Homo sapiens: one gene and its partner. The gene in region 1 interacts genetically with each later gene. Each region holds a gene or a part of one and is shown in the gene's direction. Other genes may lie near its edges. The genes, in order: GATB and MRPS21.

Evidence for each region.
Region 2: changes in GATB (region 1) and MRPS21 together harm fitness less than expected from each alone (positive genetic interaction), as found in Homo sapiens cells (one large-scale study listed by BioGRID).

What each region holds. Positions count from the first base shown.
Region 1 is NC_000004.12:151,754,202-151,758,023, reverse strand, and holds part of GATB (glutamyl-tRNA(Gln) amidotransferase subunit B, mitochondrial isoform 1 precursor), read left to right. Parts: intron 1-3,822. UniProt on the Homo sapiens protein: Allows the formation of correctly charged Gln-tRNA(Gln) through the transamidation of misacylated Glu-tRNA(Gln) in the mitochondria. The reaction takes place in the presence of glutamine and ATP through an activated gamma-phospho-Glu-tRNA(Gln).
Region 2 is NC_000001.11:150,300,156-150,303,977, forward strand, and holds part of MRPS21 (small ribosomal subunit protein bS21m), read left to right. Parts: intron 1-3,822.

The sequences.
Region 1 (3,822 bases):
TTTTGGCATATATTTTTATATAATTGGTTGAATTTTTAAGAAAAGTATGAAGGGAACAAGTAAATGTTTTAGCTAATAAATAGCATATGGTCTGTCCAGGACCTATAATATCAACTGTGTTTGGGGTTTCCTGCCATCTTTGGAGGAAATGTGTATCCATGGTGGTGACAAAGGTGGGGAGAGGCAGACATTGTCATGGGTAAATTCCATGCTCTCAAACATTTAAATAAGAGTGGAAGCTGGTTGAGGCCGGGCGCGGTGGCTCACGCCTGTAATCCCAGCACTTTGGAAGGCCAAGGTGGGCGAATCACAAGGTCAGGAGATCGAGACCATCCTGGCTAACACGGTGAAACCCCATCTCTACTAATAGTAAACTGCAAAAAATTAGCCGGGCATGGTGGTGGGCTCCTGTAGTCCCAGTTACTGGGGAGGCTGAGGCAGGAGAATGGCGTGAACCTGGGAGGCAGAGCTTGCAGTGAGCTGAGATCGCGCCACTGCACTCCAGCCTGGGCGACAGAGCGAGACTCCATCTCAAAAAAAAAAAAAAAAAAAAAAATCTGGAAGCTGGTTGAACTGAGCACTGGCAGGCTTGCAGAGGTATACTTTTCTCAGTCACTGACCAAAGTGGAAGATTCTGGGCAGTGCCTCCAGTATGCCTGCCTCACTCAGCTTTGGTTGTATTGGGGCAGCATCTTTGTCTTGGAACTTTTCTCTTATCGCATTTTCTGTCATGGAGGACTCCCTTCCCTGCAGACCATATCAAGGATCACCTTTGATTTGCTGCTGGGTCCCTCTGGGAGAAGATAGATGTGGAGGTGTGCCCTCTTTCTCTCTCTCTGACTTAGAGATCTATCTATGGAAAGATTTTTTGTTTATTTGAGAAGAGTGAATATTTTGGTTATAAATATATGACATCTTTTTTGGGCAGAGATTCAGATATAGTAGAGATACAATAATATTTATTGTAAAATGGAAGGCAAGTTGTCATAACACCTCTACATTTTCCCTTCCAGATTCAAAACATTTTTTTCCCATGTTGTAGTTAATTATCAAGAGATTAGGCATAAGCTCTGAGTTCATCCTAGGTTTTTCCAGCTGTGAATGTGATGGCTATCAGGCCATACTTATTACAGTTCACTTTAGAAACAGGTCCATTTGCAGATAAGCATGTTTTCTGTATATAGACTCTCCAGCTGTACCTAAATTTGGTCAAAAATTAGACCAAATTAGAAAAATTCAAAATAATTAAAATGCCAACATTTTAATTGCTTTGTAAAACTTGTCATGCACCAAAAAAGAAGGTGCTTGTTCACTGATAAGCATATCAATAACACAGTGAAGGTGTTTGGGACATTTGAGTGTTGAGAGCTTGGCTTACATTAATTAAATGGCAGACAAAGTCTGGAAATACAGTTTTGTATGAGCTAGGATTTGTTTTCCTCTTCAGAGCCTACAACGCTTATGGTTTAAGTAGCCTAGATGGGTTATTCTGTAGACAGAGGAGATCTACCTCTTCTTCAGAAATGTTTCTGCCTTTAAGGGACCTCATTTTGTACGTGAGCAACATTATACCCAAACTCCCAGAATTAAGCATTGCCATTCAAAACATTTCAAAATCTTTTGATTTACCTCTAAATAGATTTAAAATACACTAAAACCTTTAGACAGTTGTCCTTCCCCTAAGCCCTATGGAGATGTATAAACATGCTCTGATAGCCAGACTCTGCTTATAACTCCATTCATAAGAAACCAATAATTTGAGAATATGTTTGTGCTTCCGAGGATTTTAGTAGAACATTATGTTATTGTTTTGGTCAAGTAAACCAAAGTGTAAGTGTGATTCATGATGATACTTGAAACTCTTTCTGCGCAGGGCTTATATTGCTCCCTTCTCTCCTGCTTCTTCCCCGCCCTCTACCTGGCTGATTGTGCCTTCTCACATGGCTGTGTTCTGCCACTCAGCCCTGAAATGTTGGTTTCCCATGCCCTATTCTTTGGCTCTCAATTCTTCTGTTACCTGTGTTCCCCTGAGTAATCTTTTTACCCTCAAATAAAGCTCCCCTCTCTCTTTTAGGCAAGAAACCTATATCTATTGTGTCCTACTATATATTTCCATCTGAATGATTCATAAACATCTTAAATTCAGCAGTTACAGTGTTAAGCCTGTTATCTTTTCTCCCCAAAGTTTCACTGCCTCCTGACGAAAGAATAAACCAACAAGGGAAAATATATGTAAGAAGAAGCAAAAATCAGTGGGAAAAGGATAAGTTATTTAACTGATGGTTTTGGAATTGGTTAGCTATTTGGAGAAAAAGTATCGCTCATTTCACACATCAAAACAAAGTTCATATATATATAATATAAGTTAAATGTCAAATTAAATCCAGAAATATCTAGGAGAATATTTGTTTGTCCTTGGGTTGGGGAGAAACTTTGTAGGCATAAAAGCAAGAAAAAACAGCTAATTAGGCAAAATGGCAATTTGACTACTTTATTCGCCCAACATGTTTATTGACGTAGTAATTCTTTTAGGAATCTGTCCTTGGAAAATAAACATGTGGGCAAAGACTTATATGCAGAGATGTCTATAGCAGATCTATTTTTAAAGGTAGAAAATTGGAAGTAACCACAGTTTCTCAGTGATGGGGGAATCATTGAGTAAATTATAATACATCAGTACAGTACAACATTATGAAGCCACTGATAATGTTTATAATAGACTTTTAGTGACATAGGACAATGCTAAAGATAAAAATTCTAGTGAGATGAATAGAATTTTCATGTAGATTACTTAATCTTCTTTGCATCAGTTTCTTATAAAATGGAGATAATTGACTCATTGGATTTGTGTGAGAATTAAATGAATCAGTACCTTTAAAACACTTAAAACAGTAATTGCATGTAGTAAGTGCTCTTATTAATTAACAGATAATTAACAAGTAATAACAGGTAATTAATTAAAAAGCTCTTAATAATAGGTAAGGTAAATCTTACCTGCTAGCATACCCATAATGATTGGTGGCTTTTATCTTTACAAAGGCTCTCCTGAGTTATTGTGCACAGTTACGTTGCCAGTGAGAGCAAAAGTAAATGCTACACATAACAATTGGTCACTTAACCTTGATTTCACCAGTTAAGTGATCTGCCAACAAAAACTAACCTGGGTATCTCATCACCTCAGAGATGTATAGAGAATTAAGTAAATAATGAAAACCAGTAAAAACTAGTATATGGATAAAATTATTTCTGAATTAGAAATCATTACTTTTATTGCGAAAAAGAAGGCTTATGAGCTTTTTTTTTTCCATCTGTAGTTATTTGGAGTGTTTCTTTGGTTCAACATGGTATTGGCTCTTGATTTAGTAAAAAATTAGGATTGTCACTTAAAACAATTGTTATAATGTATAGTCTTTCTGTAGACATTTCATTCTTCTTCTCTGTCGGTTGTGTCTTCATTCACTCAGCTGGCATATATTGGATGCCCACGTTATGCTAGCCCTTGTGTAGCTCTAGTGACACAGTTTTGAACTTGGTAGACGATAGATATGGGTGTTGCCCACATGGAGCATGAACAAGCAAGCAGGCAGTTGCACTACCTTTTAATAAACATGTTAGTCGTGGAAATACAAGGTGCTTGAGGAGCACATAGGAAGAGTATTCAACACAGATATAAGGAATTGATGAAATTGGCCAAGTAGAAAGTGAATAGGATGTACAAAGACCAGAAGAAAAACAACGTGGCTTGCTCTAGAAACTGAAACGTTTTCCATGTGTTGTAGCATAGAATTTGAATATGGGCATTGCAAGAGGTGAGGCTAGAGC
Region 2 (3,822 bases), on another chromosome or scaffold:
AACATGGTAAAACCCCGTCTCTACTAAAAATATAAAAATTAGCCGGGTATGATGGTGCATACCTGTAATCCCAGCTATTCGGGAGGCTGAGGCAGGAGAATCGCTTGAACCTGGGAGCTGGAGGTTGCAGTGAGCCGAGATCGCGCCACTGCACTCCAGCCTGGGTGACAAAGTGAGACCCTGTCTCAAAAAAAAAAAGGCTTGTAGCCTCCTTAAGGACAGAAACCTATGCTTTTTCATTTGTGTATCTCTTGGATTTACCAAAGTGTCTGGCACATCCAAAGCTCTCATTAAATGTCTACTTAATGAACATAAATGTTCCTTTATCTTTTTTGTCACTTATTTAATGTTTGTCAAACTTTTTTACTGAAGTGTCGTTAACAGCAGAGGAGAGTGAATGAACTATAGGGGTTCTGCTACTATAAGCAAACATGGAATTTCTTTGAAGCTTCCCTAAATTAAAATGTAAGGTGAACTTCGTATTCGTTGCCATTGCATCTGTTTTATGGGTAACACCCCCACTCCTTCGAGTTAAAATTGGTGCCTCCAGGCAGATGCATCAAATTTGTCCAGAAACTTGTATCCTTTGGCATTCTGTTAATTACCCTGGTTAAGAAGCACAGTATTACCTTTTCTTCAGGGATTAAAACACCAAAGTAGGAGTAGGATTTGGAAAAAAGCAATTTACATTGCTTAAAAAGAAAAGAATTATATTCTTTTCTTTTTAAGAAAGAAGAGGAGTGGTTAGAAAAATAAATTTGGCCAGGCGCGGTGGCTCACCCCTGTAAGCTCAGCACTTTGGGAGGCCGAGGCGGGTGGATCATCTGAGGTCAGGAGTTCAAGACCAGCCTGGCCAACATGATGAAACCCTGTCTCTACTAAAAAAAATACAAAAATTGGCCGGGCGCGGTGGCTCATGCCTGTAATCCCAGCACTTTGGGAGGCTGAGGGGGGCGGATCACGAGGTCAGGAGATCGAGACCATCCTGGCTAACACAGTGAAACCCCGTCTCTACTAAAAATACAAAAAATTAGCTGGGCGCCGTGGCGGGCGCCTATAGTCCCAGCTACTCGGGAGGCTGAGGCAGGAGAATGACGTGAACCCGGGAGGCGGAGCTTGCAGTGAGCCAAGATGGCGCCATTGCACTCCAACCTGGGGGACGAGAGCGAGACTTCGTCTCAAAAGAAAAAAAATTAGCCGGACATGGTGGCAGGTGCCTGTAATCCCAGCTACTCAGGAGGCTGAGGCAGGAGAATCGCTTGAACCCAGGAGGCGGAGGTTCCAGTGAGCCGAGATCGCGCCATTCATTGCACTCCAGCCTGGGGGACGAGAGCGAGACTTCGTCTCAAAAAAGGAAAAGAAATTCAAGTCCCATAGACTCAGAGTCCCATAAATTGTATTATAGCTTCGCGGGGCAGGGGGGAAATGAACAAATATTTCAGTCTTAGAATAATTTTCTTTTTCCTTTCTTTTTTTTTTAATACGGAGTCTCTCTCTGTTGCCCAGACTGCGTGGTCTCGCCTCACTGCAACCTCTGTCTCCCGGGTTCAAGTGATTCTCCTGCCTCAGCCTCCCGAGTAGCTGGGATTACAGGCACCTGCCACCACGTCCGGCTAATTTTTTGTAGTAGAGACGGGGTTTCACGATGTTGGCCAGGCTGGTCTCAAACTCCTGACCTCATGATTGGCCCGCCCGGCCTCCCAAAGCGCTGGGATTACAGGGGTGAGCCACCGTGCCCGGCCTCTTAGAATAATTTTCTAGGTAAGGACTTTCAAGCTTGCATACGTGAGCAGACTGATTTTGGAGTGATCCAATCTTCTGTTTTCCTGCTGCCTGTTAAACACATTTTCTGACTGATGCACTTTTCTGTTTCTTCTTTTTCTCTGCTTTTCCCAAATGTCCTCTCTCTAGCCACTTTTTCTGTATATCTTTCTCACACTCCAGGCCTCTCCTGATCTCTTTCAGCTTTCTCATAGCTGGTAGTTTAAAAATAATTTGCTTGTTCTGTGGTCTAATTACAACAATAGGTAGGAGAGCAAATGAGTCTAGAGGGAGGTGATTAAAGCTTTACCATGTTTGGAGTACAGAGAGAGTCTTACAAAGGAAATAGCCTACGTGTCTGTCCAGTGAGGCCACCACAAAATGCCTGTTATATAACTGGGGGCCCTCATTGGTGCCCCGGGATGAGAAGGTGGAGAGTGGGGGTTGCTAGGAAGCCCTGCATGATTGGCTGGCCCCCAAGCAAAGAAAGGTGAGTACACTGGAAGCATGCCCTGTTGACTCCTTTTACTCCTAGTGGGCTACCTTCTGGGTCCATTGAGTCCTTCTGCATACACGTCTGTCCTGACGTAGACTGGCTACACTGACATGTGAGTCTGCCACCCGCACCTCCCCCCGCTCCAGGCAGCTTGGCTCCTTTTACATAATCATTTGAATTTCACTAAAACTGGCAGCTGGTTTCTCCTTCAGTATTAGGTTGCCAGGCGCCCGAACTCCAGGCTGATCTGTTTACTCTAAAGCTCTTGATGTACTAGTCCTTGAACTACTTTTGGAAGCAGAAGGAAGCATCATTAGTAACACCCCCTCTATTCTTGTGTTTTACAAAGCTTTTCTTGCATCCTTTTCTGTTAGAGGTAAAGTTGAGTAGATACCTCTACTATAGGGACTCTGGGGCATTTGAAGATAATCTGTGCCTTTTTTAGTATGACTAGAACGTGTCGGGTAAGGGAGGGAATCCTCACCTGGCATCTTGGAATTTATTTGGTCTGTGTTTTGGAAGTAAGTAGTACATCCAGGGAATGCCATTTACCAACCCCCATCATTATATTCTTTCTTTTCCCTTCACCATTCTTATGTTCTTTTGTTATTCTTTTTCCTTGTCTTGCCCTTTTGCCTGACAGTACAGGCATTTCCTTGGTAAGATGATCACCTTTGTTTTAGAAGCCTTTTGGAACTCCAGTAGGGTTCCTTGAGTCATACTCAACCCCTTCCTCCTCTTGCAGTGTTGTTTCATCCTACTTTTAAACTGTCTTTGTCATTCCAATAGGTTCGTCTTCCTAGGTCATATTTACTCAGGGTCTCTGTCGTTTTTATATTCTCTCAAATCCAGTCTCCTTGTACTTTTTACATTATATATCCAATCTTTTTCTTTCAGGGGCTTTTTTCTATATTTTCTCCAATATACTACTTTCTAGTCCAAAAAGCAACCTTCATTAGACAGTATTAAACACAAAGTCTCAGCAGAAATAAATGTTTACATGTTTAGATCATTCTTTTATCCAAGTGTCCCTTATCGGCTTCCATTTCCTCTTTACTCTGATTGAAGAGTCTAGCCCAGCTCTTCACTCCCTCTTTTACCCATGGATACTGCAACAGTTTGTCTTCTGAAATGGGTGGTTTTTGTTTGAGAAGCAGAATACTGTTGTAGAGCACTTTACTAAAGACCTGAATTCTGTTTATAGTTCCATTTTGTGATCTTGGGCGGGTCAGCCTCTCTGAACTTCAGTTTCCTCATCTATAAAAAGAGGACATTATTTGCCTAAACAATTTCATAGGAGTGTAGTTAGGATGATGGATATAAAAATGCTATCTAAACTCTAATATGCCATCGTAGTAAAGGTAATACTATTGAGGCTTTCTGAGCTATATCCCCAATAACTGTATATATTGTAAGGTCACTTAATCCCTTGTGCTATGGACATTTATTAGTCATCTAGAGGACTCATTTTTGGCATACATTTCCTAGTTGTTCTTTGCCAAGTATTTTGTTAGGTGCAAAAGTGAATACAGATTTGATCTCTAACCTTAGAAAAGACACAACCC